Regions from separate parts of the Homo sapiens genome. Here all the other regions are linked to region 1. Evidence: fine-mapped expression QTL. A gene starts in region 1. Each other region holds a variant in brackets. All regions are shown on one strand. Distances are from middle to middle.

What was found.
Region 2: its variant is fine-mapped to the expression of FAM240C in substantia nigra (GTEx, PIP above 0.99).
Region 3: its variant is fine-mapped to the expression of FAM240C in putamen (GTEx, PIP 0.97).

Annotation. Positions count from the first base shown.
Region 1 is chr2:241,894,596-241,904,492 of GRCh38, forward strand. It overlaps FAM240C (family with sequence similarity 240 member C), which reads right to left and starts at 5,869. Exons shown (of 3, transcript NM_001382368.1): 1 at 5,763-5,869; 2 at 2,591-2,739. The coding sequence starts at 5,774. All of the region lies in intron 2 of LINC01237 (long intergenic non-protein coding RNA 1237), which reads left to right. RefSeq lists enhancers at 5,340-5,984, 5,985-6,628, 6,629-7,274.
Region 2 is chr2:241,953,561-241,963,457 of GRCh38, forward strand. All of the region lies in intron 2 of LINC01237 (long intergenic non-protein coding RNA 1237), which reads left to right. Among named protein-coding and RNA genes, the nearest start is that of LINC01238, 12 kb to the right of the region's middle. The variant G/A (reference allele first, on the strand shown) is at 5,690.
Region 3 is chr2:242,159,780-242,169,676 of GRCh38, forward strand. It overlaps LINC01881 (long intergenic non-protein coding RNA 1881), which reads left to right. Exons shown (of 7, transcript NR_130702.1): 7 at 181-724. Among named protein-coding and RNA genes, the nearest start is that of LINC01881, 76 kb to the left of the region's middle. The variant T/C (reference allele first, on the strand shown) is at 6,209.

The DNA.
Region 1 (9,897 bases):
CTCAGGACCCTCCTCACAGGAGAGGAAAAATGCCTTCCCCGGGAAGCAGCCTGGGTCCCCAGTTCTGGAAGCTTCTGAGCCCCGGAGAGACTGTGCCTGAGCTTGAGCTCTTGCAGCCTCTGTCTCTGCTCTGCTCACGGAGAGGCAGGTGCCCTCGCAGGACAGGGCGGCCTCTGTGGCTGCCTAGGGCCCGCCTGCCTCCCTGCACCCTGCCCGGCTGCCTGTGGGTGCCCACTTCCTTCTCGCTTGCCTGCCCGCCTCACCTGCCCGGCCTGGCCACAGTGGACGGTGCTATGTTGTGATCTCAGCACCACGCATGGGCGGACCTGGCGGCAGGAATGGCCTGGTCAGAGTGGTCCAGGCTCCCCGAGACCTGGGCAGATCCCCACCTGCCCGCAGCTGCCGCTTCCTTCAGCCTCAAGTGCTTTTGGCTTTAGAAGTTGGAGAGTGGGGTGGGTGCCCGGCTCCAGCCAAGGGTGAGCTGTGTCCATGAGGACACTTGTCACAGATGCCCAGGACCCAGATGACGATGGTGCTGCTGAGTGGCAGGCAGTGTACCCCGGACGGCTGGGCCCCACGGTGATGGTCCCCGAGCAACAGCTATGTTCACCCTTGCCAGGCCATGGCTGCTGACTGGTGGGGCCCAGGGCAGCTCCATGCATGAGAGGGTCAGCTGGGCAGGATGTCAGCAGCTGCCACGGTCCCACAGACTTGGCGCCTCCGGGCCTGGAGTCCTCGGCCCTCACAGCCGGCCGCCCATCCCAGAGAGGCTGCCAGGACAGCCAGCCCCATGGTGGTGGAAGCAGCGGCCCCTGTCCCTTTACAGGGGACCGTGGGGTCCCGAGCCAGGGGCTGCGAATGGCCGGTCTCCCACATGGGCCAGCTCCTCTCTCACGGCGGCTTCCTGGGGTGGGCCTGGCCCTTGGGCTCACACCAGCACACGGGACCCTCTCAGCTCTCTGGGCTTCATGCGGGGAGGAAAGTTAGGCTACTCTCTAACGGGAACCCTAAGAGTGACCTCCTTAAAAGCAGTGGTTGGCCTCGTGGCCTGGGGAGAACCGGGCTGTGTGGGTGGATGGAGGGGGGTTGTGCAAATGGAGGCTCTGCCAGCCCCTGAGAGAACGCTGGTGCCTGCCTTGGACACCAACCTCCACCTCAGGGGCCAGAGAAGGCAGCGTGGACACACAGTCCCGGGGCCTGAGCCCACTCCTGGGATCTGCACCCAGGCAATGGCCAGAGGACACCAGGGCACATGGCACATGCAGGCACACGCAGAGGCACGCGGAGGCACGTAGGCACACACAGGCACACGTCCAGGAAGCACAGGGCGGGGATGAGGCAGGGCCCGTGGGGCAAGCACTCGGTGGTGGGGGGGGGCCTCTCCTTCACCATCGTCTGCCGAGTGCCTGCGTGGTGCTGGGCTCTGTGCTGGGTCCATGTCCGTAGTTGGGTAGCTGGTGAGTGGGGAGGGGCACCCCCAGGCTCTGTGGGACCGCCTCGGGCTGCTGAAGGGGTACCACGGCTCTCTTGCTCGGGGCCTGAGCACCGAGGGCTGCCTGGAGCCTCTGGAAGCTCCTGCTGTGTGCCGGCCAGTGTCTTGCAGCAAATGAGCTCTGCTCCCCACCCAGCTGTCCCTGAGCAGTGGCTACACCCTGGGTCGGCTCAGGGTCACCCACTCAGCACCCATAGACCCCTGGCCTTGGCCCTAGGAGAGAAAGGCGTGCTGGCTTGGTATCTGCCTTCCTGAGCAAGTCTGCTAGGAGGAGGAAGGGCACAAGTACAGATACGTCACTCAAGGGCAGTGATCTCAGAAAAACAAGCCAGAGAAAGACATTTCCTCCTGGAAAAGTTCCTGTGATCCTGGACGGAGTGTCAGGGAGATGGCGGGGGAAGGGGGTGTGGGTGAAGGGGGTGTGGGTGTTGGGGTGTGGGTGTTGGGGTGTGGGTGTTGGGGTGTGTGTGTTGGGGTGTGGGTGTGGGGGTGTGGGTGTTGGGGTGTGGGTGAAGGGGTGTGGGTGTGGGGGTGTGGGTGTTGGGGTGTGGGTGAAGGGGTGTGGGTGAAGGGGTGTGGGTGTTGGGGTGTGGGTGAAGGGGTGTGGGTGTTGGGGTGTGGGTGTTGGGGGTGTGTGTGTTGGGGTGTGGGTGAAGGGGTGTGGGTGTTGGGGTGTGGGTGTTGGGGTGTGGGTGAAGGGGGTGTGGGTGTTGGGGTGTGGGTGTGTGGGTGTGGGGGTGTGGGTGTTGGGGTGTGGGTGAAGGGGTGTGGGTGTGGGGGTGGGGGTGAATTGTCCGTGGGCATTGGGGTGTGGTGTTGCCTGGATAGTGATGTTTGATCTGAGCTCCTGGTCTCACGGTTAGCAACGTGGTGTCTTGTCATTTCCCACCTACTGTTCCAAGCGTGATCACTAAGGTGAGTGAATGGCTGTCAGTTTCCTCCTGGGTTGACTCCTTTCACAGGCCTGGAGCTGAGGGGTTTCATGGTGGGCTGAGGGCCAGGGCTGTGTCAGGGCACACTGCTGGCGGGGCTGTGCCCCTGGGTGGCGAGCGTGGCTCAGGCATAGGGGTCCCCGATGCACTGCACACCCCGACTCACTTGTTCAGAGCGCTTCTGCGAACCCTGATGTCCTCGTTCTGCAGGTGTCTTGCGTGATGCTCGATTTTTTTCTCCCAAAACATCTTTATCCCGCCTGAATCGTATGCTACTCTTCCAGGATTCTTAAGAGTGAGGCTTTTACTCATGTTCTGGAAAATAAAAAGTGGAGAAGAGCTCAGTCACCTTATGCCATTCCCATTGACGAGTTTGTGCTCCAGCACCCGGATGGCAGAGGAGCTGGCTCAGCCTGCAGCATCGTGGTCCCCGCCTTCCTGGTTCGTGGGGGATGGCGGAGGCTGCCCTCTGAGACTCAGGCCTCAGGTGGCTCCTGACCGGCTCCTAAACGCTCTACCGGCTCCACCTTCTGGAGCAGTCTCCTGGGTTGGCAGAAGTAGAAATGGAGGGCAAATTCCATTTTGGGCTTTTAGTCATTTTAAAATCTAAGCAATGATGCACTTCTAACTCTCTGTGTGTTAGTGTGGGTGATCTGCAGTCCCACCAGCGAGGTGAGCGTTTCTTGGATGGGGCTGTGGCTTCTGTGCCAGGTGAGTCCATCCCTTGTTTTTGAGACAGGGTCTCATTCCCATCACCCAGGCTGCAATGCAGTGGTGCGATCTCCCCTCACTGCAGCCTTGACCGCCTGAACTCAAGTGATTGTCCCACCTCAGCTTCCTGAGTAGCTGGGACTATAGGTGTGCACCACCATGCCCAGCTAATTTTTGTATATCTTGTAGAGATTGGGTCTCACTATGTTGCCCAGGCCGGTCTTGAGCTCCTGGGCTCAAGCAGTCTTCCTGGCTCAGCCTCCCAAAGTGCTGGGACTACAGGTGTGAGCCAGCGTGCCCAGCTCAGTTGGCCTCTCTCGACACCTGGTTATTGGGTACCTTTTGGTTTGAAATATGTAAACCCAGCAGTGGGGTTAAATGTGGCAGGTTACACTGAAAAACTTCAGCTCTGCTATTTGATGTAATATGCTAAAGTGAGGCTGACTGAAATGTTTACTTTCCAATTATTTTGGACTCGTGCATCTACGGGACACCAGCAATCTTAGAATATCAATCTACAGCCATCAAGAATGTCCAAGGCCGGGCGTGGTGGCTCACGCCTGTAATCCCAGCACTTTGGGAGGTCAAGGCTGGCAGATCACTTGAGCTCAGGAGTTAAGAGACCAGCCTGGCCAACATGGTGAAACCCTGTCTCTACTAAAAATACAAAAATTAGCCGGGATTGGTGGTGGGTGCCTGTAATCCTAGCTACTCTGGAGGCTGAGGCAGGAGAATCGCTTGAACCCGGGAGGTGGAGGTTGCAGTGAGATGAGATTGCAGCACTGCACTCCAGCCTGGGTGACAGACTCCGTCTCAAACAAACAAACAAACAAACAAACAAAAAAAGAATGTCCGTGACAAAGGGAAAGTGTCGACAGCAGCAGCCCCTTTTCTGGAGCCCTCCTCCCGATTTCACCCAGCAGTGGGAGCCCGGCTCTGGGTCAGCTCTCCCTGGGACGCGTGGAGCCTGGGTCCCTGGGCTGTGCCTGCCCTGGCCTGGCTCCAGGTCTCCGTAGATGGCCCTGCTCTGTGCTTGAGGATGGGGTTTACACAAGGGAGCCAGGGCCACGTTTCGGGGTGCAAGGCGGTGGGTCTCGGAATGAATGAGGCATCCACTGTTCTGGGGCTGCCTGAGCCCCTAAGCCGCTGTCCGGCCAGCTCCTCGGGGCCTATGGGGTGGGCAGAGCCATTTCTGCAGCCCTGGCTGGCTCCCTTGGGGCACTTTGTTCTTCAGCTTGGCCTTGCTTGGCCTTGGAGGCATTTCTCTTTCCCCGCCCCCCACTCTTCTCTCTTGCTGGGGAAGAACACAGGGTGGCAGGAGCGCGGCCCGAGAGGAAAACCAGGCAGCTGAGACCCGCGGGCTCGTTTCCTGCAAACACATCACCTGCTTCAGGTGGAGAGGGTAAGGGTGCCTTCTGGAGCTCGGCTCAGGTTGCAATGAACAGGTGCTGGGGACTCCTTCGAGGAGCTTGATGTGACCCCTGGCTGGGGGCTTCCAGCTGCAGAGGCGCGGGCGCTGTGGCCTGCGCAGCCTGTTGTGATGTGGGTGCTGGGCGCTTTGCTGGGGAGCTGCCCCTGGAGGGCCACAGAAATCGCCCATCGATGCCACGCCCTTTGTTCCAGAAACTTAGACATGCAAAGTTGATCATGAAGGGACTGAACTCAGCCACGCCTGCCTGTGCTGAGGACGCTGGCGCGAATTCAGTGAGTGAAAACTCATCCAATGAGGAGGGTGGGATGCACGGAACCCACCAGTCAGGGCCGGGCCCAGCTGCTTCCCCGGAACTTCGCACCTCCTCTGGTGTCTGGGCAGACGCCTCCCGGAGTGAAGCTGGGGCTGGTGTCAGATTCAAACCGAGTAACAGCTGGAAAACATCTGACAGCTGAGACCTGGCTGTTCTTGGCAGGGGCTTCAGAGAGCAGCGTGGGCGTTAGAGCTTCTGCTCTTAGGACACTTAGCCCCCAAAGGCAGCCCTTTAAACCCTCATGGGACAAAAACAAACCAGCAGCAAAAGGGAGAACCAGCAAACCAGCAGACAGAAGAAACAGACACGCGGCCGGGCGCGGTGGCTCAGGCCTGGAATCCCAGCACTGTGGGAGGCCGAGGCGGGCGGATCACGAGGTCAGGAGATCCAGACCAGCCTGACTAACACGGTGAAACCCCGTCTTCACTAAAAATACAAAAAATTAGCCGGGCGTCGTGGTGGGCGCCTGTAGTCCCAGCTACTCGGAAGGCTAAGGCAGGAGAATGGCGTGAACCCGGGAGGCGGAGGTTGCAGTGAGCCGCGATCATGCCACTGCACTCCAGCCTGGGCGACAGAGCGAGACTCCATCTCATAAACAACAACAACAGCAACAAAACAAAACAACAATGACAACAACAGACACACAAAGGGGTGCGTGTTGTGAGGCAGGTGATGGAGACACTCTCCCCCCACCAAAGGTGTTGACAGCAGGAATCCCAGTGGGAAAACAAAATTACAAAGTTCAGTTCCCCCAGCGAAATGCGGGTGGGCTCACGTCTTGTGCCAGATATGTCACATACTCTGTTCACCTTTTGGGGGCCCCCAAATGCAGCGCCAATCTCTCAAGCAAGGACAGCGCCTGTCACATCACAGAGAGCTTACTTTTCCAACCATTTCTCAGTGACGGGCAGGTTTTCCTGTCTCTGTTGAGGGTCCTCAGCCTGTCCTCTCCGGGGTGCACGCCTGTATCTCGCCTGCCGCTCTCTGTTACATGGGCTCAGTGACACGCATGCTTGGCGTCGGTTCAGTCCCAGAAAGACGCGCTGCCCTCTGTCTGGGCACCGTCCCTGGCAGAGCTGTCCGTCCGGAGGGCAGCTGTTGGCAGCATGGGAATCTGGAGGACGGCCAGCTGGGCCTCCTCTGCCCTCAGCCCCCATCGGGACTGTTTTTTTCTTCTTTCGACGGCTGCTCCCAGGAAACCTTGTGGGTGGGAGGGAGCATTGTCTGGGGAGGGGCGTCGGGGCACCTAGGAGTCCTGGGTTTTGCCCAGGCCTGCGTCTCAGGAATGGTGGCCTTTGCACTTACTGCAGGCGAAATGTATATCACAAAACGACGATGCAGACACACTCAAGGCAGGTGTGGAAATGCTTAGGGTCTCTCTGCCCCACCCATACATGGGTTTACGTATTTATTGTGAGGAGCTGGCTCTCGCGGTGACAGGCGCTGAGAGGTCTCGGGATCTGCCATCTGGGACCCAGGAAAGCCTGCGGTGTCAGTCAACCCGACTCTGAGGGAGGTTGGTGTAAATTCCAGACCTTGGTCCAGAGACGGTGAGATGAGGCGTCCTGGAGCAAGCAGGAAGGAAGGCAGGCGAGCAGGAGCGATTCCTCCTTCCTCCACCGCGGCACCTTCAGGCCGTCAGAGGATTGGATGACGCCCAGCACACGGGGGTCACCGCGTCCGGAAACACCCTCCCAGCCGCACCCAGAAACACTGTCCCAGCCGCCGCCCTGGTGCCATCAGGTAGATGCACAAAGTGAAGCCCCCAGGCTTTGTCCTGGACGGGGTTCCTCTCCCAGGATCCATCCCTCCAGGCCTCAGGGAGCCGGCAGCAGGGCCGGCCCAGGGCCAGCCTCCGTGATCTCGTTTCAGTCTCCCGGGTCACTTGCTTCTTTATGAGGTTTCCAAGTCATTGATAGTTTCAGGTGAAAGCTTTTGGGAAATTTTCGTTTACTATCATAAAGCAGACGGTACACTTATTTTTTATATTATCCTTCACAGTTGTTTTTTTTTAAACTGGAGTTCTGTGGGTGTCATCAGTGGATTGGGAGCTGTTCGTGATTTCCCGAGTCCTGGCGTGTGCTCAGGACACCTTGATCTGTGGCTCCCTGCGAACTGGGGTTAGGCCTCAGGACGCGCCGGGACATGCCGCAGCGCACAGAATGCACAAGGTGGAAAGACGGTGCTCAGGCAGCGCGGGTGGAAGACGCCGGTGAGAACCAGCAGCTGCTTCAGAAAAACCGCTGCGTGCAGCACCGATGGGAGGAAGCCACCTAAAAACGGAAAGGAATAGCCCCAGGAGAGGCGTCTCCAGCAGGACTGCGTTTTTGTAAAGCCCGTGGTGGTCTCCCCAGGTCCTATGCGCGAGCGCCCCGGGGATTCCCCACCTGCCCTGGAGCCGAGAGGCCAAACCAACCAGCAATCACAACACCGGCCTACACTTCAAAACTTGTCCTTCCAGGCCCCTTCCTTCTGACGTGTGTGCGGAGGGACGGCAGGGCGCCACCGTGCTGGCCGTGCCTGATGGAGCAGCAAGGCGGCAGGGAGCGCATTCTGATCTCCCCGTGTTTCGGAGTTTGTAGGTCAAGTGTGCACTATCTGCAGTCAGCCAGAGCGGAGGAGGAATTTGGGAGAATGCATTTGCCGCAGGCTGAGGCGTTTGCGTTTCTTCCTCTTTCCTGAGCTATCCCAGTGCAGTGGGCTCCAGACAACCCTGTAGCACCACGGAGGTTCTGAGTGGACTTTCCTGCACCCGCCACCCCCACCCCATCAGAGGCGGTCGTCCAGGCTGCCGGGCTCCAGCTACCGGGCTCAGCCGCCTTCCAGCCCAGGAGTCCCGCCTGCCGCCTCCCCTCCGCCGCCGCCTCCCCTCCGCCGCCGCCTCCCCTCCGCCGCCGCCTCCCCTCCGCCGCCGCCTCCCCTCCGCCGCCGCCTCCCCTCCGCCGCCGCCTCCCCTCCGCCTGCCAGCCCGGAACGCCGCCTCCAAGCCTCCTGTGCCAGCCCCGTCCTGCGCCCCTGTACCTGGGCTCTGTGACGGTGAAGCCGGCGTCCTCACAGTCGCAGCAGCAGCACAGGCTGAGCCTTCCCCGTGTGCGGCATCACCCAGCTCTGTCCTTCGTGCCTCCCGGGAGCCCAGGGAGTCGGGGCCACCGGACGCTGGACCTGAGAACCTGGACCCAGGCCCGGTCTGCCCGGGAGTTGGCAAGTGCTGAGCACTGTGTCCCCTTGCACGGCCACTCGGGGCCTCCACGCACCTAAAGGACAGCTCCTGAAGCATCCTGGCCCTGCACTCACGGTGGCACGCGGGCGCCGTCCCCGAGCCCAGGGGCCAGGCCCAGGGCCCTTCCCCGAAATCTGCCATGAAGGTGAACTCGGTTACACTCAGGCCCAGGGCTCCCGAGGCTGGTGGCGGCTGCTCCGCATGAGGCCTGCTGGCTCCCAGGGGCCGCCCTCCCTTGAGAAGGGGGTGCCCACTACGGCTGGGCCATCTGCAAGGGGCCCGGTGATCACATTATGGAGTCATTTTTGAACTGGGTTCTATTAACTACTAATTAGTGAGCCACAGTCATGACATCCTTTGTAAGGAAAAATGTTCCTAACTGAAGCGCTCGCCCATGTCCGCGGTGAGACGCCTGCATGGGGCGGTCTCTGCTTCTCCCCAAGGACCCTCCTCGCCGCCCGCTCGGCTGCACCGGCAGATGGTGGCAGGGGACAAGGACGGCGCGGTGGGCCCCGCGCCCAGCTCACCGCGAGTGCTGCTCCCTTCACAAAACGCTAGAGAGACCAGCACCCTCCTTGCCCCGCCCCTGCTTGGGGCCTCTCTGTGCTTGGAGAGGAGGCCCAGGCTTCCTCCTCTTCCTGGAGCGGGCGTGAGGAGGGGTCTGCAGGCTCTGTCTCCCGGACAGAGCAGCCTGGAAAGTCCCGTGCTCCGGGGACGCCTGTCTTTGACTCTGTTCTCCTGGGCCGCAAGGCTGAGGCCCGAGTGCGGAGGCTGCACCTGCTCAGCTCCACTGTGACCTCTTGGTGCCGGGGACACGCCTGCCCCCGCGCACATTGCCGCCCGGCCCACCTCCTGTCTGAGCCCTCTCAGCAGACAAGGTCCTTGGTGCCTGGAGTCATCAGGACAGATGGTGGAGCCCAAGTCCCTGTGTGGGGAGGGGAGGAGCAAGTCCTAGTGTAGGGAAGGGGTGAGTCCCAGCGTGGTGAGGGGGTGTCTTTCCCGTCCATGGTGCCCCGTCGAAGCTCCACACACTGGACAGGCCACAAGTTCTCATGGGACTCGGGCCCATGCCTGGCCCAGTGTGGACGCCCTACTGAAGCGGCATCCCAGGCCCCAGCAGCTCAGACTCCCCCCAGCTGCCCTCCCCATGCCCAGCTTGATGGGTACACAGTGTTGCCCGCTAGTGTCCACGCCCTCCCGAGGGGTCCCTGGGCTACAGCAATGTTTGGTCTGAGTGAATGAGCCATGGGGGAACAGACGCCCCTGTAGCTGCAGACCCCCTGCCACAAAGCACAAGGTGGCAGGGGGTGTCCCAGAAGGCCCCGCAGAGAAGGCAGCTTCGCACCAACCTCGTGAGGCCTTGGGGGTCAGCAGCTGGGCCAGGAGCTGACCTGGGAGGCAGGGAGGCAGGGATTACCTCTGGAGCCATATCTGGGGCTGGGACTTTGCCTGAGCCAGGTGTTCTAGGAATGCACTTTAGCTGCAGAGTCCTTATCCATCTGGCTCAGCGCTGGGGAGGGCAACAGGGAGTGGTGGGGTCTGTGGCAAAGTGAGGTGCCGCCATGTCCACGGGCGGCTGGTGCTGAGCTCACAGCTGCTCTGGGCAAACTTTTTCCATAGATGCCTCAAATCTGAATTTTTAGGAAGCATATCCAGATTTTAAGGTGTTGACTAACTACTATTTCACCTAAAAAAAAGCCACTGAGCCGGCTCCCCCATGTGGGCCGGACACAGCATTGTACTAGAATCCCAGCAGCGAGGGGGATCCCGCACTTCCTGGGGGCCTGCGGGGGCTGC
Region 2 (9,897 bases), 59 kb after region 1:
GTGGCCAGAGGCTGTGGGGAGTGGAAGCTGGAGGACCCAGGCTCGAGGGCGTCTGACCCAGGGAGCCCGCAGCAGGCAGGTCACCCCGACTTGTGGCCCCGTGATGCTGCAGGGACCCCAGCTGTGGGAAAAGCCACGCTACTGTCCCCCAGAGCAGAGGACCAAGTGCTCAGCTGCACAGCCCGGCCGGGGGTGCTCGGCCGCCGTGTCTGCAAAGGCCTGGAGCAGATGTACCCAGGCCCCAGGGAGGAGCCGGAGGTGCCCAGGCTGTGGGGAGGAGCCGGAGGTGCCCAGGCCGGGGGGAGGAGCCAGATGTGCCCAGGCCGGGGCTGTCCTGAGGTCTCCGCTGGCCCGTCGCTGTCCTCTCTCTCCTGTGCCGGGGTGGCTGCCCTGCAGGCTCCAGTGAATATAATTTTCTCTTGGCTTAGCTGCATCCTGCAGTTTTGATGTGTCTTTTCTTCATCACCATTTATTCAACACATATCCAAATTCTGCTATGATTTCTTTTGGCCACTGGATTATTTAGAAGCATATTCTTTAATTTCCAGGAAGTTTAGCATTTTTTAGTATTTTTTTTCACTTCTAAGTTTACTGAGGTCAGAAAATATGCTCTGAATTTTAAATTTAGATCCTTTGAAATTATTTGAGGCTTTCCCTATGTCCCAACATATGGAAATTTTGGTGAATGTTATGTGTACACTTAAGAAGAAGAGGAAGCAAGCCATTTTGGATACAAGGTCTGAGGCAGAACAATTGGGCCGCTCTAGTTGATTATGTTGCTCAGGTCTTCCTTATCCTGACTAATTTTATGTTATCCCAGTTACCGAGAAAGGCACGTGACAATTCCCCTATGCTTGTGGATTTTTCTCTTTGTATTTGGCTCTCATTACTCTTAGTAGGGTGCTCCAAGGTGGGATTTACATGTATCCCCCTTGGGATTTGCTGATCTTCATGAATCTGTGGATTAAGGTCTTCCAACAGTTTTCAAAGATTCCCACCCATTATCGTTTCAAATATTTCGTCTGTCCCATTAACTCTGATCTCTCTCTGGGATTATGCATATCTCAGACCTATTGACTATGTCTCATCTGTTATTTTTTTCCTTTCTGGATTTTCTATTTATTTTTTCCCATTCCTTTCATTTGAGTATTTTCTATTACTTCTGTTGAGGTAGTTTATAATGACTTGCATTTATGTTTACAAATTCTATCTTCTGCTGTGTTCAATTTTTATTAAACCCACCAATTTCATTCTTAATTTCAGATATCATACTTTTCAATTCAAGAACGTCTGTGTTATTATTTTAACGTTTCCATTTCTTTGTCGGAATCCCTCATTTTCCCATCTCTTGTGACTGAGCTCATTCATCACAGCTGTCTTTAAGGTCCTTCTCTGGCAACACCATTTTGGATCATCCGTGGGTCCCTTTCTGCTCTTTCTTTCCCTCTTTGTTATCAGTCACATGGTCTTTATTCTTGACACACTCTGGTCATGTGTACCGAATGCTGAAGCTGGTGAATTATCATAACAGCAGTGCCCTGGTGGTTCCAAGCCATGTTGTCTTTAAGCATAAAGTGCTCACCGTTTCCTCTTCTGAGGAATGGATTGAGGCCTGATCATTCTCGGTGGAGGATGGAGCCTGGTGAGAGTGAACTGCACTTTCTGTTGCACTGAGGCTCACCCAAGCTTGTCTTGCCCCTCGGGGTGGCTTCCCAGGGCTCCCAATCCAGAGCCTGGTGGCTCCCTGTCTCCCCAGTACTGGAACAAGCAGGACAGAGAGGCAGGTGCTCAAGGGAGGGAGACATGGGTGTTCAACGGGGAGAGACATGGGGGTGTGGAGGAGAGAGGTGTGAGTGTGAGATGTGGTCATGCACAGGAGGAGGCTGCCCTGCTGCAGGACAGGCATCCACCTCCTCTTGATCCTCCCCTTTCCAGGGAAGAATGGGATCGACATGTCCTCTTTCTAGGGATAGGAGGGGGTGGAAATCTTTTTGACGCTGCAGGAAGCTTAGAGTGGCCATCCCTTTGTTCGCCTGGGGTGAGGGTTTTTGCGGAAAGGAGACATCAAGTGTCTTGGTGTCCGATTGATTGGACACGCTATTGGCCTGTTATTTACAGTACTTCTTTACATCTACCCCTTAGGATCATTTTTCTCCTCCCCATGGGTACGTGTCCTCAACCTTGGCAAAATAAACTTTCTAAAGTAACTGAGACAGGTCTCACAGCCTCAGGAGGCCCTGATAACATGCTGAAGGCAGTCGGAGCACAGTTTGGTTTTATACATCGTAGACACGAGACATCAGTCAGCATATGTAAGATGAACATTGGTTTGATCTGGAAAGACGGGAAGACTGGAAGCAGGGAGGGGGCTTCCAGGTCATAGGTAGATAAGAGACAAATGGTTGCATTATTTGGAGTTTCTGATGAGCCTCTCCAAAGGAGGCAGTCAGATATGCATTTATCTCAGTGAGCAGAGGGGAGACTTTGAAGAGAATGGCAGGCAGATTGGCCCTAAGCAGTTCCCAGCTAGAATTTTCCCTTTAGCTTAGGAATTTGGGGGCCCAAGGTTTGTTTTCCTTTCACACCTGTTAGGCATTTGGGCTGTTTCTACCTTTCGTCGGCTGTGAATAATGCTGCCATGAACATATGTGTAACTTCTGCCATGAACATATGTGTACCTGCTGCCATGAACATATGTGTACCTGCTGCCATGAACATACGTGTATCTGCTGCCATGAACATATGTGTACCTGCTGCCATGAACATACGTGCACCTTCTGCTGTGAACATACATGTATCTGCCACCATGAACATATGTGTACCTGCTGCCATGAACATACGTGTATCTGCTGCCATGAACATGTGTACCTGCTGCCATGAACATGTGTACACACTTTGAGGCATGAGGAAGAACAGTGAGCAAACTGCTGAACCGTCTGCCTTCAGGGGCCACACATGACAAGCCTGACCCTAGACACCACCAGCAGTGCACACGTGAGGATGATGGGCAGACATGGCAGGGTCAGGGCGAGAGTGGCAGTGGAGGGCAGGGAGAGTGGCAGGGAAGCCTGTGAGGGGCAGATGTGGAGAAGGAAGGCAGGGGTCTGCAGCTCTTGGGGGGTGCCTAGGGGCACTCGATGTGAGGGGCAGCTAGGACGGGAGGTGGAGAGTGTCGAGGGAGCTGGCCCAGGCAGTGGATGTCATCAAAGACCCCCAGGAGCACAGGTAGGGCTCACCCAGGGCTGGCTGGGCAAGGGCCTGGCCACATTGTTTGTGTTGGACAGTGACTTGAAGGCAGCTGGGCTGGGGAGCTTCACAGTGGAACAGACAGCCCTGGCGTACCCTGGTGGAGGCTGTGGCTCTGGGGAGCGGGGGCGGCCTACGGGCTTGGTAATGGAGCACATGTGGCTTTCCCAGCTTGGTCTTGAGTTGAAAGGCGATGAGGAGTCCAACTCAGGAAGCCACAGTCATTGACCAAGTCCTGGCTGTCTGGGATACGGTAATGTGGCCCACAGCTTAGCGTCACTGCACTCCAGCCTGGGCGACAGGGTGAGATCCTGCATGTGAGTCTGTTCTTGCATTGCTATAAAGAAATACTGAGGCTGGGTAATTCATAAAGGAAAGAGATTTAATTGGCTCATGGTTCTGCAGGCTGTACAGGAAGCATAGTGCCAGCCTTTGCTTCTGGGGAGGCCTCAGGGAACTTCCAGTCATGGTGGAAGGCAGTGGGGAGGCAGGATTACGTGGTGAGAGCCGGAGGGTGGGTGGGAGCAGACTCTTAAACAACCGAAGCAGTGGGGAGGCAGGATTACATGGTGAGAGCCGGAAGGTGGAGGGAGCAGACTCTTAAACAACCGAAGCAGTGGGGAGGCAGGATTACGTGGTGAGAGCCAGAAGGTGGAGGGAGCAGACTCTTAAACAACCAGCTCTCCCGAGAACCAACCGAGCAGGAACTCACTCATCGCCCAGGCCGTGGTGCTAAGCCATTCACGAGGGATCTGCCCCCATGATCCAACACTTCCCACCAGGCCTCACCTCCAGCACTGGGGAGCACATTTCAACGTGAGATGTGGAGGGCACTCATCTAAACCGTATCACTCCGTCTCTAAAAAACAACAGGAGTTTATTCTCGCTTTTGGAGACCAGAAATCTGAGATCAAAATGTTGGTGGCCTCACTCCCTTCCCAGGCTTGAGGAGAGAAGCCTTCCTGCCTCTCTTAGCTCCTGGTGTCCCGAGGTGTCCCTGGGCCTGTGTTTTTGTGCCTGCATTGCTCCCATCTCTGCCTCTGTTCATGTGCCCTCTCCACTTTCCTCTCTCTTCTCCTGTTCTGTCTGTGCCAATATCCCTCTTCCTTTCTCTTATAAGGACACCAGTCAGTAGATTTAGGGTCCACCAGGGCAACCCAGTGTGATCTCATCTCAACATCCTTCACTTAATTACATCTGCAATGACCTGATTTCCAAATAAGGTCACATTCACAAGTACTGAGGTGTATTAGCGCGTTCTCATGGTGCTATGAAGAAATACCCAAGACTGGGTAACTTATAAGGAAAAGAGGTTTAATTGACTCACAGTTCTGCATGGCTGGAGAGGCCTCAGGAAACTTACAATCATGGCAGAAGAGGAAGCAAGCATGTCCTTCTTCATATGGCGGCAAGAAGGAGAAGTGCCCAGCAAAAGGAGGAAAAGCCCCTTATAAAATCATCAGATCCATTAGGCATGGTGGCTCAGGCCTGTAATCCCAGCACTTTGTGAGGCTGAGGTGGGCAGATCACAAGGTCAGGAGTTTGAGACCAGCCTGGCCAACAAGGTGACACCCTGTCTCTACTAAGAGTACAAAAATTAGCCAGGCATGGTGGCGTGCACCTGTAATCCCAGCTACTTGGGAGGCTGAGGCAGAAGAGTCACTTGAACCCAGGAGGTGGAGGTTGCAGTGAGCCGAGATTGTGCCACTGCACTCCAGCCTGGGTGACAGAGCGAGACTCCGTCTCAAAAAAACAAAAACAAAACAAAAAAGACCCATCAGATCTCATGAGAACTCATTCACTATCATGAGAACAGCATGGGGGAACCACCCCATGATTCAATCACTTCTCATGACACACGAGGATTATGGGAACTACAGTTCAAGATGAGATTTGGGTGGGGACCTAGCTAAGCCATATAGGGTTAGGACTTAGACATATTTTTGGAAGACATAATTCAACTCACTACTCCAGTCTTCCCTAACTCGGCTATATATCAGACCCTCTTGGGGATCTTATAAAGGTTACATGTTATTATAATTTCTGTTCCAGAATCCCAGTAGGTTGCTCGGTGCCTGGTTCTGACGCTATCCCTCAGAGCCTGTGGAAGTTGCTGATGCCAGGATGCAGTTGCTCTCCTAAAGCAGAGTGGGAGATCCTGAGGAAGGGAGCCTCCTGCTTGTGCGTCTGCGGTAAGAACGGCTGCACAGACGCACGGGAGATATGAGGAAGGGAGCCTCCTGCTTGTGCGTCTGTGGTAAGAGCGGCTGCACAGACGCTCTGAAAGTCCTTATGCCTCTGTGTTGTTCCAAATAAACTCACTTATCCTGAGAGCCGCTCCCTTTGCTGCTCAGGATGGCACAATCTGGTGCCAGAAATAGGACCAGAAGGAAGATGGCCTTCAGAAGGAAGTGACAATTCTTGGAACTGCTGTGTAGTGCCC[G/A]CCTGAGGCCTCTGAGCTCTTCCTTTCTGCGGCCCACCTCTTCTGCCACGTGCATCTTCTCCCAGGCTGAGAGCCCTCCTTCCGGCAGAAGCTTGACTTCGCTCGGGATCTGCCTTGGACCAGGCCACCTTAATATAGGACCTTGCGTCCGTCCTGGGACCCTGTGAGGCCGGGTTGTCCTTTCTGGTCCTGGGGAGTGCTCTGGTTTGTTTGTTTCTGTGCGTCCATAAGTGATTAAGTGATTTGGCTTTTTTTACTTCTGCTCTCCCTGCTTGTTTCAAAACATCTTTAAAGAGCAAATATCACATACAGCGGTTATATGAATTTCTTTTTGCTCTCAAAAGTGCAGTAGGAGACAGAATGGGATTCTCAAAGTGTAAGGCACGCCCGGCTTTCGGGGGCTCAGCTGGTCGTACATTCAAACATTGTGGCCCTTTGTGCACATTTTAAGCCCATGGACAGATGACACCAAGGGTGATTTAGAATTCCAGTGGCCATTTGAGAATCATTCCAACTCCCCAGACTGGTTTCCTAGAACTATATTAGAAAATTGCAGCTATTGGGTTAAACAGTCTGAATGAGGCGCGTATTTTTAGTTGCCATCTTGAGGCTTCAAAGTGCATTCAGGACTTTAAAAAGGCCTCGTTGCAAAATACTGTCTCCACACCAGCCAAGGCACCTCCTTCCCAGAGCCCTTCCTTCCCCTTCCCACAGCACATCCTCCTCCTCCTTCTCTGGCTGACCTCCCCACCCCCTTTATTCAGAGCTCCCCAGCTTTTCTCCACAAACACCAATTCATCTTTTAACACATGGAACCTCTAGGGAAGTTCTAGATGAAGGAGATAAAGTAATTAAATATGCTATTCTGGCATATTGACAATTTAGTTAGAATCACTTGAAAAACAGCAGGCTTGCTTCTTTTTCAAAGCTACCCATGCTGATTGCAGACATAAAAAAATGTTTTCTCCCCACTATTCCTTAATGGGCTCTACCCTGAAGTTAGCAATCTAATCAAGAAACAAGCAAAGTTGAAAAGACTGTCTATCAAACTAAACACTTTCTGGCATTTAGCTGGCTATTTTGAAACTGTTTTGTAAAAACTCACGTCTATAAAGGAAAACAGCTTTTGGCTTCCAGAGGCAAAAACTATGAGAATAAATGAGTGAAGTAAGATGTAATTAGGATTCCCCTGCTGCCATCTCTGTGCTGGTAAGAGTTGTGTCCAGTTAAGAAAATTAATATCCTTCTTTAGATGGAAGGAAAAATAGAGCCCTTCCTCTGCTACTTCTTCATTGCTTTTAGCAGAAAAGAATATTTGTGTTAAAGAAGCATCATCTGGAATGGTCCTTCCTGACTCCTTCAATGGCCAGTTTTGATTAAGAAGGAATTAAAGCATAATTGTAGGTGAATGTAAATGACTTTAAAGTTCATCAACTTTTCAATGATAGTTGTTTTATAAACTGTGTCTACTTAAAATGAAGTCCAAACATATTTTGGGGGAAACTTGAAGCCTTAACGTGAACTTATAGATATTCATAAAATGAGTCATTTTCAAATAAGATAAAACCCACTGCTACAACTATAATTAAAACAAAACCAAAAAACACACTGATTTCAAAGCTGCCTGGAGGTTTTTTATTCTCACCAGCCCTAGCTGAAATGTAAACATCCAAGAAATTAACTTCTACACCCATCGGAGACCATAAATAGGGGGGAAGGAAGCAAGCAAGCAAGGAAGGAAGGAAGGAAGGAAGGAAAGGCAGCCTTCTTATCTTCAAGGATGAGAAGCTGAAGCAGACAGAACATTGTACAGACCTTGTTAGATAACTCGTATGTTTTAAGCCCCCTGGAATGATTTAGTGAATTGATAACGGCCTCTCTGGGGTCTTCATTTCCATACGGGGGCTCCCATGCTATGTAAAACCTGTATGATGCTTCTCTCCTGCTAGTCTATCTAGCGTCCAACTGGGACGCTAAAGGCTGGGATATCCCACTTTGTCCTCTCCCCGGAACCTGCAGGTGGGATTCCAGGACACCTGACACAGGGCAGAGGCAGGAATTCTTCCCAAAGTCAGCTCTCTCACGCCACTACCTGGAATGCCTGGTTGAGAAGGTAAAAGGTTTTCTTGTCCCTTTTTAAATTTGGATCGAAAGGAGAACATTGTAAGAAGTGGTTCTTTAAATGGTGACTCTTGTGAATTTGGTGCTGGGTGCCCGTTGCTTTTTGGCCACAGCTTCCCAGAAATAGCCGCTGTTTTCTTTGTCTCTGCCTTTTGTGGGGTTTGCCCTAAGGCCTGTTTTCTGTCTTGAGAACTTGGTCATAACCAGTGAGGATGCTGTCTCCGGTCTCTGCCCACTGGGAGATCCGAGTTGCTAGGCATGCTTCTGATGGCGGTCACCGGCCAGGACCGAAACATGAAGTGTCTCTGTTCGACCACATCTGCTCTCAGGAACTTACCTTAACCGCCTCACCATGGTTACCTTGTTACCAGTGAGCATCTTTACTTCCTTAGCCTATCTTCAAGAGAAATTTTGGATCCTGAAGGGGGCTACATCCTTTGCATCCTTTCTGGGGACCTCTTGCATCCATGGTTAAGCCATACAGGGCTTACTAGTTTTGAATCACAGCGGAAGTAGGTTTACTTTTGGTTTGGAAGTTGGTTAATATTTGGAGCATTATAGGAACTTTTTGTTTGTTTGATCTTCTGTCCTAAGCTAAAATGGAACTAGAAGGGAGGAAAGAAAGACTTCAATACCACCGGGAATGTTTACTGTTGTCCTGGTTAAAAGCTGATAATAAGATATTTGAAAAGGGACTTTCTTTAGAGCTCCCTGATGAGAAGTCAGGCTAACTGGAAGCTGATGCTCAGGCTATAACTCGTGGTGGCTCTGTGTTTTCTCTGCCAGACTCTGCTTCTCCCCCTGGGAACTTCTCAGCCAGCCGAGCCATCCTTTCCCAGCACTGCTGACTGTGTGCTGTGCACATTTTTTGATTGGCGTGATTCTTGACTGTTTACAAATGGAGCAAATAAAAGATCTTTAAGGTCTTTCCTACTTAGTAAGAGGCATTGTTTAAATTGACTTAGAAATAAATGAGCATACCTACAACTGTAAAAAAAAAAAATAGGAACTAACCCAAATGTTTTTAAAGTTCACTTGACCTGGGGTAAACTTTGGTGAATAAAGGTGAGTTTAGATTTGCCGGTTTGATAAAAGCAGGTGTCTTCAGAGTCCTCAGCGTTAAAGATGATGCAGACACGCAACTTTCATCTCTGCTAAATGTTTAATTGTAAAGCATGAGTCTGACCTAAAAACAAGTGTGCCCGCAGAAGTGAGGCGGCACGCCCGTTACTCCTCACGCAGGAAGCGCAGCAATGAAACAAAACGCCGTGCGTTTAACGCTTCGGTTTCTTGATTTTGAGATGACCGCCTGACAGTCACATGCTGTAAAAATGGTTAATAGGAAAACACCTCAAGATGATGGATGCTTAATATCTCAGGAAGTTTCTCAGGAGTAACACAGACAAGTTAAAATACTAAAACATTAATCGCTGAACATAAGTGTAAGCTTATTCCTGGCTTCGAAAGTTCTGTGGAAAGATAAAATTTGTTTGGGTCTATTAGAAAACATTGTGTCTTGTTCTACATTGAGAAATTGTTCTATGAGGAAGCACGTTTCTGAAAAATTATAAAATATGTATTCATAAAATGTTATCATATAACAGTTCAAAATTGCTTACTTCCTAGGTTCCACTAAAAATTAAGGGCACTAAGATTTAAAAATTCTAATTAATGTGTGTAACTCTATATACAAAGTATGAAAAATAATGATACAATTTTTGGTATTTTTGGTAAAAAAATTACAAAAGACATGAGGGTTTTTTTTAGAAGAAGAATAATTTTGTCTAATTTGGAGGTTATTTAAAGGTTGCTTGAAAATGCAAATTTTGAAAGGAAATAGAAACAAGGCAGAAAGGAACCAGTAAATGGGACAAAAAATAAGCAAAGAAAGTTATATCTTTGGTAGGGAAAGTTGAAAAGAAAAAGAGAATAAAACTTTTTTTTATATGAGAAAATCTTGTGTGGCCAAAATTATAAGGGAAAAAAGAGTAAATTTTTATCCTAAGTTAGAATGATTGGTTGTTCCAGTATAAAAAAGAGGAAGTATAGAACGAAACTGAAGGTTTGAACAAATTCTAGAAGGTTTG
Region 3 (9,897 bases), 270 kb after region 1:
TTTTTGTCTTTGTGTAATAGCTATCTTATTTAGGAACCAGATGGGAAGCAGGTTTGCATAAACCAGTTCCCAGCTTGGCTTTTCCCTTTGGCTTAGTGAGTCTGGGGTCCCAGGATTTATTTTCCGTTCTCACAGGTTGTGGTCCTCACATTTGGCTCAAAATATTCAAATTTTTTCCAGAGTTTGGCCTTTTCTTCAGCACTGGGAATTGTGATCCAAAGCTTTTCCTGATGAAGCACAAAGTTGGAGAAAAAAAAGCAAACTAAACAACAACAATGAAACAGAACAGAGTTAATCTGCTGTAGCTCAAGAGAGGATGTACCTGCCCCCACCCCGCATCCCTGGGCTCGGGTTTGCCTTGCTGACCTCTGCTGCCACCTGGTGCCACACAGAGAAACTGAGGAGAAACCACATCAGTCTCCTTCAGCCTCAGCTTCACATCTGTGGGTCAAGTAACCCTTTCAGAAGCTGAATAATGTGGGAAAGCTTTCCTCTCAGGAAAATGCACACATCCAACTTTGAGAAGATGCCCTTGGGGGTGCTTCAAGGATCCTAGATAAAGAACCCCCTTTCCCGAACATCCAAGAACCTAAGTTTTTTTTTTTTTTTTTGAGAAAGTCTCGCTCTCTCTCCCAGTCTGGAGTGCAGTGGCGTGATCTTGGCTCACTGCAAGCTCCACCTCCCAGGTTCACGCCATTCTCCTGCCTCAGCCTCCCGAGTAGCTGGGGCTACAGGCACCTGCCACCAAACCCGGCTAATTTTTTTGTATTTTTAGTAGAGACGGGGTTTCACCGTGTTAGCCAGGATCGTCTTGATCTCCTGACCTTGTGATCCACCCGCCTCGGCCTCCCAAATTGCTGGGATTACAGATGTGAGCCACCGCACCTGGTCCAAGAACCCAAGTTTTAGATCTAGAGTGATGTCAGCATGACATTGATTTCCTGAGGCCCAGGGTCGAAGGAGCTGAGGACAGCAGAGGGGTGAAGGAACTCAGCTACAGACAGCAGCAGCTGATGCACAGGGCTCCCAGCGCCTGAAGTCACCCGGAATTGGGAAGTGCTCAGAAGCTTACAAAGCTGCCTCGAGGTGGGAACATGACATAAATCCAAGAGCAGATCCCTGATCCTATAAAAATGTACTAGATGCAGTGGGGGCATTTTAAATGAGCAGAGAAGGACAGACAGATAAACAGAAGGACAAACAGTATTGGGATTGGGATAAATGCTCAGCTTTTGCCCAAATCTTAGTGACTTAAGCATCACTTATTTGCTCACGATTCTGTGGCTGGACCATTTGGTTTGGCTCACAGGGCAGGGACTGTGCTGGTCTTACCTGAGCAGACCTGCATGTCTGCGGTCAACTGGGTTGGCAGAGACAGAGTGACTGTCTTCCTCCAGGAAGCAGCAGGTTAACTGGTTGGCAGAGACAGAGGGACAGAGGGACTGTCTTCCTCCAGGAAGCAGCAGGTTAACTGGTTGGCAGAGACAGAGGGACAGAGGGGCTGTCTTCCTCCAGGAAGCAGCAGGTTAACTGGTTGGCAGAGACAGAGGGACTGAGGGACTGTCTTCCTCCAGGAAGCAGCAGGTTAACTGGTTGGCAGAGACAGAGGGACAGAGGGACTGTCTTCCTCCAGGAAGCAGCAGGTTAACTGGTTGGCAGAGACAGAGGGACTGAGGGACTGTCTTCCTCCAGGAAGCAGCAGGTTAACTGGTTGGCAGAGACAGAGGGACAGAGGGACTGTCTTCCTCCAGGAAGCAGCAGGTTAACTGGTTGGCAGAGACAGAGGGACTGAGGGACTGTCTTCCTCCAGGAAGCAGCAGGTTAACTGGTTGGCAGAGACAGAGGGACTGAGGGACTGTCTCCCCCCAGGAAGCAGCAGGTTGGCTCTGTTTCCTTCGTGGGGCAGCTGGTCTCCAGGGCAGCAAGAGAGACCAAGCCCCAGTGCACATTCTACAGCCTCTGTGCACATCAGACTTGTTAATATCCCATTGGCCAGTGTAAGTCACATGGCCAAGCCCAGATTAAGGAGTGGAAAGATGGAGGCTATCTCCTCCTGGGAGAGGAGGCCAAGGAGGTGGGAGTATTATGTGGCCACTTATGTTTGCAATCTACCATACTTAGCACTTTGAGAAAAGAATTAACTGAGAAACTTGCTTCAAATAGGGCATTCAGTAAAATGAAGCCCCAATTGAAGTAAAATGCATATATAAAAAATGAAACTGTGACCGATTTTAAGGACAGTATTGGCAAATATTTCTGTGCTCTTGGAGGAGAAGACCCTTATTGGCATGACATGTCAGAAACCACAATGAAAGAATTATTTTAACTTGCATTCATAAAAATTAAAATTATTCATTAAAAACATCGTGAATGAAATTAAAAGTCAAAATGTAAGCCAGAAAATTATTTACAATGTATGTGTCAGGAAAAGACAATACCCTTCAAACTTTGAGAGTTTACATCAGAAAGAAAACAGCAAATGACATGATCCAAACTTGATAAAGGACATGAAAAAGAGCCAGCACTTAGTATGTTTTCTGAATGAATAAGTAGCCAACAGCACATGAAAATGCGTGTAATCCATTTGTAAGCAGAGAAATGCAAACTAAAACAGTAAAGTGTCATTTTCATTTCCTGGATTGGCAAAGGGTTTTATGTATTTTACTGATAGTGCTCAATATTAGCAGTAAACAACAAATGGTGAGTAAATATGAGCTTCGGAACCTCAGGGAAATGATCTCCTTATTTCAACCTGTAGATTCCTTCCTACAACCAGTGTCTACAGAGCACCTACTATGTGCCAGGCACAGCCTAAGTCCTGAAGGTGTAGTCTCCACTGAGAAGGTGATATTTGCACAAAGACCTGAAAGACAGGAGTGAACTGTGTGGATAACTGTGGGTACCCCTACAGGCAGAGGAGTAGCAATGTGGGTCCCAAGGTGGGACCACATCAGACATGTTCGAGGACTAGCTGAGGGAGAGAGGTGGGAGGTCAGAGGAGATGGGGGCCGGCTCTGCTGGCCGTCACGAGCACTCTGGGTGCAGAGGGCGAGAGGTGGGAGGTCAGAGGAGATGGGGGCCGGCTTTGCTGGCCAACACGAGCACTCTGGGTGCTGAGGGCGAGAGGTGGGAGGTCAGAGGAGATGGGGGCTGGCTCTGCTGGCCGTCACGAGCACTCTGGGTGCAGAGGGCGAGAGGTGGGAGGTCAGAGGAGATGGGGGCCGGCTTTGCTGGCCAACACGAGCACTCTGGGTGCTGAGGGCAAGAGGTGGGGAGGAGGTCAGAGGAGATGGGGGCTGGCTCTGCCGGCCAACACGAGCACTCTGGGTTTTCCTCCAAATGCTATGAGAGCAGAGGAGTAACCTGGTCTGACTTGGGTGTGAGCAGATCTCTCTGGTTGTTGTTCTGGAAAAAACTGAGGTGCCCACGTGAAAGCAGAGATCGGTTAGGAGGCTGCTGCAGCAATTCAGGCAAAAATGGGTGGCGGGCCTCGGGTGTAGTGGAGGAGAAGCGATCGGATTTTGGATATTTGTAGCTCCCCCAATACGATTTCCTGGAGAAGGAGATGACTTCAGTCTTCTGGCCTGAGTAGCTGAAAGGATGAAGCTGTCCTTCGTGGAGGTGGGGAATCCACAGAGAAGCGGGTAGGGAGAGAGTATCAGGAGCTCAGTGTTAGCCATGGATGTTCGAGGGGAGGTATTGAGCAGCTGATAGAGACACAGGCCTGTGGTCCCAGGAAAAGGTCTGGGGGTCACTAGCCCATGGATGGAGTCACAGGCTGCATAGACTGCAGGAAAGCGAAGGTGGAGAGAGAAGAGCAGAGTACCAGGATGGACCATTGAGCACCCTGGTGTTGAGAGCAAGTGGCCTCTAGTCAGAGTTGGGTCAGGGCCACTGTGAGTGGGCTGCCCCCAACATGAGTCGGCTGTCTAGGACTAGTTTATCTCTGCTTCTCACTTTACTGGTATTATGGGGCAGCTCCTGCTGTCTTCCAATTTGGTGTTTGTAAAATGAGACATAAAAAGCAGGTGACAAGGATACCAGGAAGTGCACAGGTCTGAGTGGAGTATGGGGCTGTCTCCAGGGGAGAGGTGGCTGTTTGGAGGGAAGGGTGACAATGGATAATCAGGGTCCATGGGCATCCCTGCTTGTTTTGGAGCCATGGACACTCAAATAATGTGATTTTATGAGGCTATTGGAGAAAAAATTGGCCACAGGGCCAAGAGGGCTGGGAGGACCCCAGCTCTCCGACTGGTGTTTGCTTCTCTGCCATCAGGGTCGGGAGGCCATGCCAAGCATTGTGATTTGCAGAGTCCATGAGACAGGAACACTCCCACCACAGTGACCTGCCTCTGCACACAGCCAGAATGTAGCTGACTCCTTTCTTCTCCCACTTGCATGCTTCCAAGCCTTCAAAACATACTCATCTCCATGTTCTGTGAATTAGCAATTTTTAAAAAAATAAAAAAATAAACAAACTCATCTCTGAAGGTCCAGGTGATTTTTATGTTTTACAGAAAGTTTTGTGAAGAGATGACAGAAAGGGTTATATCACATCCACACAGCAATAACTCCTCAAAAGCAACTTTTGGCCGGGTGTGGTGGCTCATGCCTGCAATCCCAGCACTTTCAGGGGCCGAGGCGGGAGGATCGCTTGTGCTTAGGAGTTTGAGACTAGCCTGGGCAACATAGCAAGTCCCTGTCTCTACTTAAAAAAGAAAAAAAAAATGAGCCAGATGTGGTGGCACGCAGCTGTAGTCCCAGCTACATGGAAGACTGAGGTGGTAGGATCACTTGAGCCAGGAGGTTGAGGCTACAGTGAGCCATGATCACACCACTGCACTCCACCCTGGGTGACAGAGTGAGACCCTGTCTCAAACTTTTTTAAAAGGCCAGGCATGGTGGCTCATACCCATAATCCCAGTACTTTGGGAGGCCAAGGTGGGTGGATCACTTGAGCCCAGGAATTTGAGACCAGCCTGGGCAACATGGTGAAACCCCATCTCTACTAAAAGTCAAAAAAATTAGGTAGGTGTGTTGGTATACATTTGTAGTCTTGGCTCCTTGGAAGGCTGATGTGGGAGGATTGCTTAAGCCTAGGAGGTCGAGGCTACAGTGAGCCATGATTGCACCGTTGCATTCCAGCCTGGGCAAGAGTGAAACCCTGTCTCTCTCTGTCTCTGTCTGTCTCTCTCTCTCTCTGTCTCTTTCTCTCTCTCTGTGTCTCTCTCTCTCTCTCTCACACACACACACACACAACTTATAAGCATCTCTTGTTTCTCCTAAAATTACCCTTCTAGCATTAGCTGTCCCATTAAAATTCTAATAGGCTTTTTTGTGGACATCTGCAAATTAATTATAAAATTTATATGGAAATGCAAAGGGCCAAGTAAGGGCCCTTAAAAGGGACAAAAATGGGAGAAATTACTAGATACCATGGCTCACCATAAAAGCTGCCTTGATTAAGACAGTGTGGCAGTGGTCAGCAAACAGTGGTCTGCCCCTGGGCCAACTCTGCCCACCATCTGTTTCTGTATGGCCCATGAAGCAAGAATGATTTTTACATTTTTAAATGGTTGAAAATAATTGATTGGTGGGGACAATGCTGGTGGAGTCTGAAGTTGTCATGCAGTGACTCACTCAAGGTTAGGCAGATTTGGTGATATATGACACAGAGATGCAAAGAAATGCTGTAGCTGACACACACAGGGTGGCTCTGGGAGATGCAGAAGGAGCATGTCACCCAAAATAGAGCCAGATAGACATCTTTAAGGAAGGAGCAAAGGGGCTGCATCTTAAAGAATGAAGAAGGGATTTGTCATGAGAGATGGGGCAGGAAGTTCTTGAGAGGCAGAGGGAGAGCATGAGAATGCTGGGAAGGGAGGAGAGATTCTCACACATCTGGGAAGCTGACAATTCATCAGCATGTCCGGAAGGAAAATAAGGAGGAGGAGCAGAAATAGATGAGGCTGGATATAGAAGCAGGGCTGAAGCTGTGTTGATCGTGGTAAAGAGTTGTGATTCTATCCAGAAGGCAATAGGTAGCATTCTAAACAGAGATCTCTTAAAACAAGAGTCAGCAAATATTTTCTGCAAAGGGCTAAATGTTAAATATTTTAAGTTTTCCAAGCCATATGGTCTCTCTCTTAATGACTCAGGTCTTCCATTATACCATGAAAGTAACCAGAGACGTTTTTTAACACATGTA[T/C]TGGCTGTGTCCCATTACAACTTTACTTACAAACGCAGACTGTGTCAGACCTGGTCCATGCATGGTAGTTTGCCACACCCTGTTTTAGAAAGCTCAGGTTTATGATGTGATGGAGAATGCCTACAAGAGCTCTTGTTTTAAATGGTAGAGTGAATATACACTGGAATTCTATCCTGCTTGACCCAAGCTCTTGATAGCGAAAGGTAGAAAAGATAGATAGTAAATAGATAGATAGATGATAGGCAGGTAGATAGATAGATGATAGATAAAGAAAATACATAGCTGTTCCAGAAAACAGAAATGGATAATTTCATGAACCAAAAGCAGAGTAATATACTTTAGAAAGGAAGCAGGCTGGAAGACCCACAGTTGCAAAGCAAATAGAATTTCCAACTGCCTCTTGTAGCCCCTTCCTGGAAGTAGTCACAGCCCAGGGTGTTCAACTTCTTCCTCTGTTTTTTGTTTGTTTGTTGTTTGCTTTTCTGTGGGGTTTTTGTTGTTGTTGTTTGCTTTTTAAAAAAAATCCCTTTCCCTGCTTTTTTGTCACAGCAGCCTTTGTCACTTCAAACACCGCAAGTGTTCTTTAAAAAAAATTATATCAACCTTTCAACTAAAATGCAACATGTCTGAAACTTGGTATCTGGAGAGGTGAGAGGGACAAAGGAGCCGTTGTTACTGCACGTTTTCATTCTCCAAACTTCACCTTGCACACAGTAACAGACAATGCACAAAGCTACTTCCTTATGGACGGAAATTCTGAAATCCTTTTATGCCTGGCCTTTCCATCCTTCAACTTCCCCTCTCCCATGCTGTGAGTGATTGTATTGGACATTTTTGTTTTAATCTCAGTGACAGGGGAACACAGATAGCTCTAATATAGCTGTGACCCAGATGCTTCTGTTTCTAGCATGTATTAATTTTGCAGCAAACATTACATCCATAATTTTTCACTGTCCTTTGAAAATAATTAGGCAATATCTCATCTGAGGTAGGATGTTTCTAGGGGTTGTGTTCTGAGTGAGAAAAACTAATCTGTTCTCTTTCCACTGCATTCTAGGAACAGTAAGAGGACCTTGTGCATGAATAATTTGTTTCCACACTGCAGAGTGGGTAATAAGCAGATTAGTAAAAACAATTCTGCTTCACTTCAATAACAGCCTCCTCCAACTCATTTTTTCTCAACAAACTTATTTTTGCAGCAGAAGAATCCCAGACTTCTTAGAGAACCCAGTGACTTTTTGCACCTTAAATCTGTGAAATCCTCATGCTTTCTTCTGCCGTATCCATCGTTCAAACAAACATGAGGCAAAGCTAGACACATTCCTGAAGGAACCCAAGAAATTCCTCTCTTTCTCTCTCTGGAATGAAATGAATTCTCTAGACCACCAGTTCTAACCTTCAAAAACCAAACCTGTTTGTGAGATCTCCTTCAAATACTACTGTAGACCCCAGTGTTTATTCATTAAATTTTTTAAATATTTGTTTTATTTGGAATCAAAGTATTTGTAATTTTAGTATTTGTATTAATATAAGGGAGAAATGTTTAAATCTGTCTATGCCATATGTGCCTTCGGCTTATTGCCCAATTAATTGTAGCCTCAGGCTAAACTTTGGTTTCTGTCTTTAATTTTTGTCGGAAGAAATATAACCGGTCTCAAAACATCTGCTTTTATTGTAGGGACTCGTGCTGCCATCTCCATTCCTCTCTCTTTTCTTGCAATCTGGGTGGAAGTTCTTTAATATGAACATTTCAACCACCTTCACTCTACCATGTCCACTATCAGCACATTCAAACGTATCCAGCCAAGGGTATCATCTTAGGCCAGGGATTTTTTAGGAATCTATTTTGCTGTGATGCACCTGGTACCCCTTTGACTCACTTTATCACCCCAGGGTTCTTTTCATTTTAGAAGCCCAAGAGGGCAGAAAAAGAAGTAGGTGAGCAATTAAACTCTCCAAGTCAGGAGCGTCTCCCCTTGTGTTAAGCAATGTTGTAGAACATCGTATTTAGCAAGCTCCTAGCAGATGAGCCACGTGGCTGCTGAGCACACACGCCTGCTTGCTGCTGTGAGCTCAGACACCATCATTATGTCTTTTTCACCTCTGGAGGGAATTGTAAGCGCCACTTAATAACCTGTAAATCGTAGAGAGTTAAAGGTGTTTCCCTAAAACACTGATGACAGAATGAAAGGTAAGGAGTGTTAGCCACAGGTCAAAAGTGCAGGAAAGTCTCTCTATGTGGGTTGTTGAAGAAATGCAGGTCTTTTTTCTTTTGGAAGTCTCCCTAGAATGGGGTCAAGGACTCTGCCCATTCTAGGATGAAAAACTGGGATATTAGACACCCTCAGATATTTATCCCAAGCTTTCATTTTGGGCTCTTAATTAGTTCATCCATCACAATCGCAAATGCTAAGCAGGGCAGTTGAATCTGTCTACAGTCCAAATCAGCACCTTCTTTTAAAGTTGAGTTTCTTATTATTCTCACCTGATATACCTTATTTATCCCACACCCACCCCAATAACATATCGTGCTCACTGTTATCTTTAAGAAAACACTTGAATTTAACTCAGCCTGGAGCTCTCTTCACATGTCTTGTCCAGATCCAGTTCGGACTCATTCTTCAGCCGTGCATCAGTCAATGGGGGCTAGGTTAAACTGTGGTGACAAACAACCTCCAAATTTCAGTGGCTCAAAAATCTTCTTCCTCATTTATTTACATTTCATCATGGGTCAGGTGAGAGGTAGCTCTGTGCTGTGTCATCCTAACACAGGAATCCAGACGGAAGGAGGGACGATCAATAAGATCCCCATTGCTATAGAAAAGAGAAAAAAGTATGTGGAATAGCACTCTGTTTCTTGGAGATTTCTCCTGAAAAAGTCACATGTTATTTCTTCTCACCTCCATTGGCAAAAAAAAAAAGTCATGTGGCCATGTGAAAATGTAAGTAGGCGGGATGGAACAGTCAGAATGCATTCATAAAATATGAACTGAAAATATCTGGAGAACAGCACCTATGACTACAACGAATGCCAACATGCATCCCTAACAACCCAGTGCTGTCACCCTCCAAACTTTTTATGTCTTGCAAAGTATTAGAACTTCTTATCTGAAGCCATACCACTCAGAGGGAATGCAAAATACATATTGACATCTCCTTTAGGATGTCCTTAGAGAATTCATGGAAAAGAAGTTAAATAATTTAAAAGTGCTTTTGGGTACAGCTATTTAGCACTAGAGGGTAAGATTAGACATAGATTGTAAAGATAATAATAGGGTTAGGGATAGGATTAGGATCTGGGTCAGAGTCAGGGCCAGAAGTATGGTTAGAGGTGGGGTCATGGTCAGGGTCGAGATCAAAGTCAGGGTCAAAGTAAGGGTCAGAATTAGGGACCAGGATAGGGATCAGGATTTAGGTTCAGTGTCAAAGTCTTGGGACAAGGTTAGGGTTAGAATTAGAACCAGAGCTTTGTTCTCCTCAGGACCCACCCGAGGGTGGGTCACCATGGCTTTGGAGCACCTGGTAGTGTGGCGTGTCCACAGTGAAGACCAGAGTTTCATTGTCCTTAAGACTGACCTGGGAGACGTGGCTGCAGGCCATTGAGGAAGGTGAGGCAACAGCTTCCTGTCTGCTCCCCGTGTGCTGAGGAGGGAGCTCTGCCATGGGCTTTACTTTCACATGTTATATTC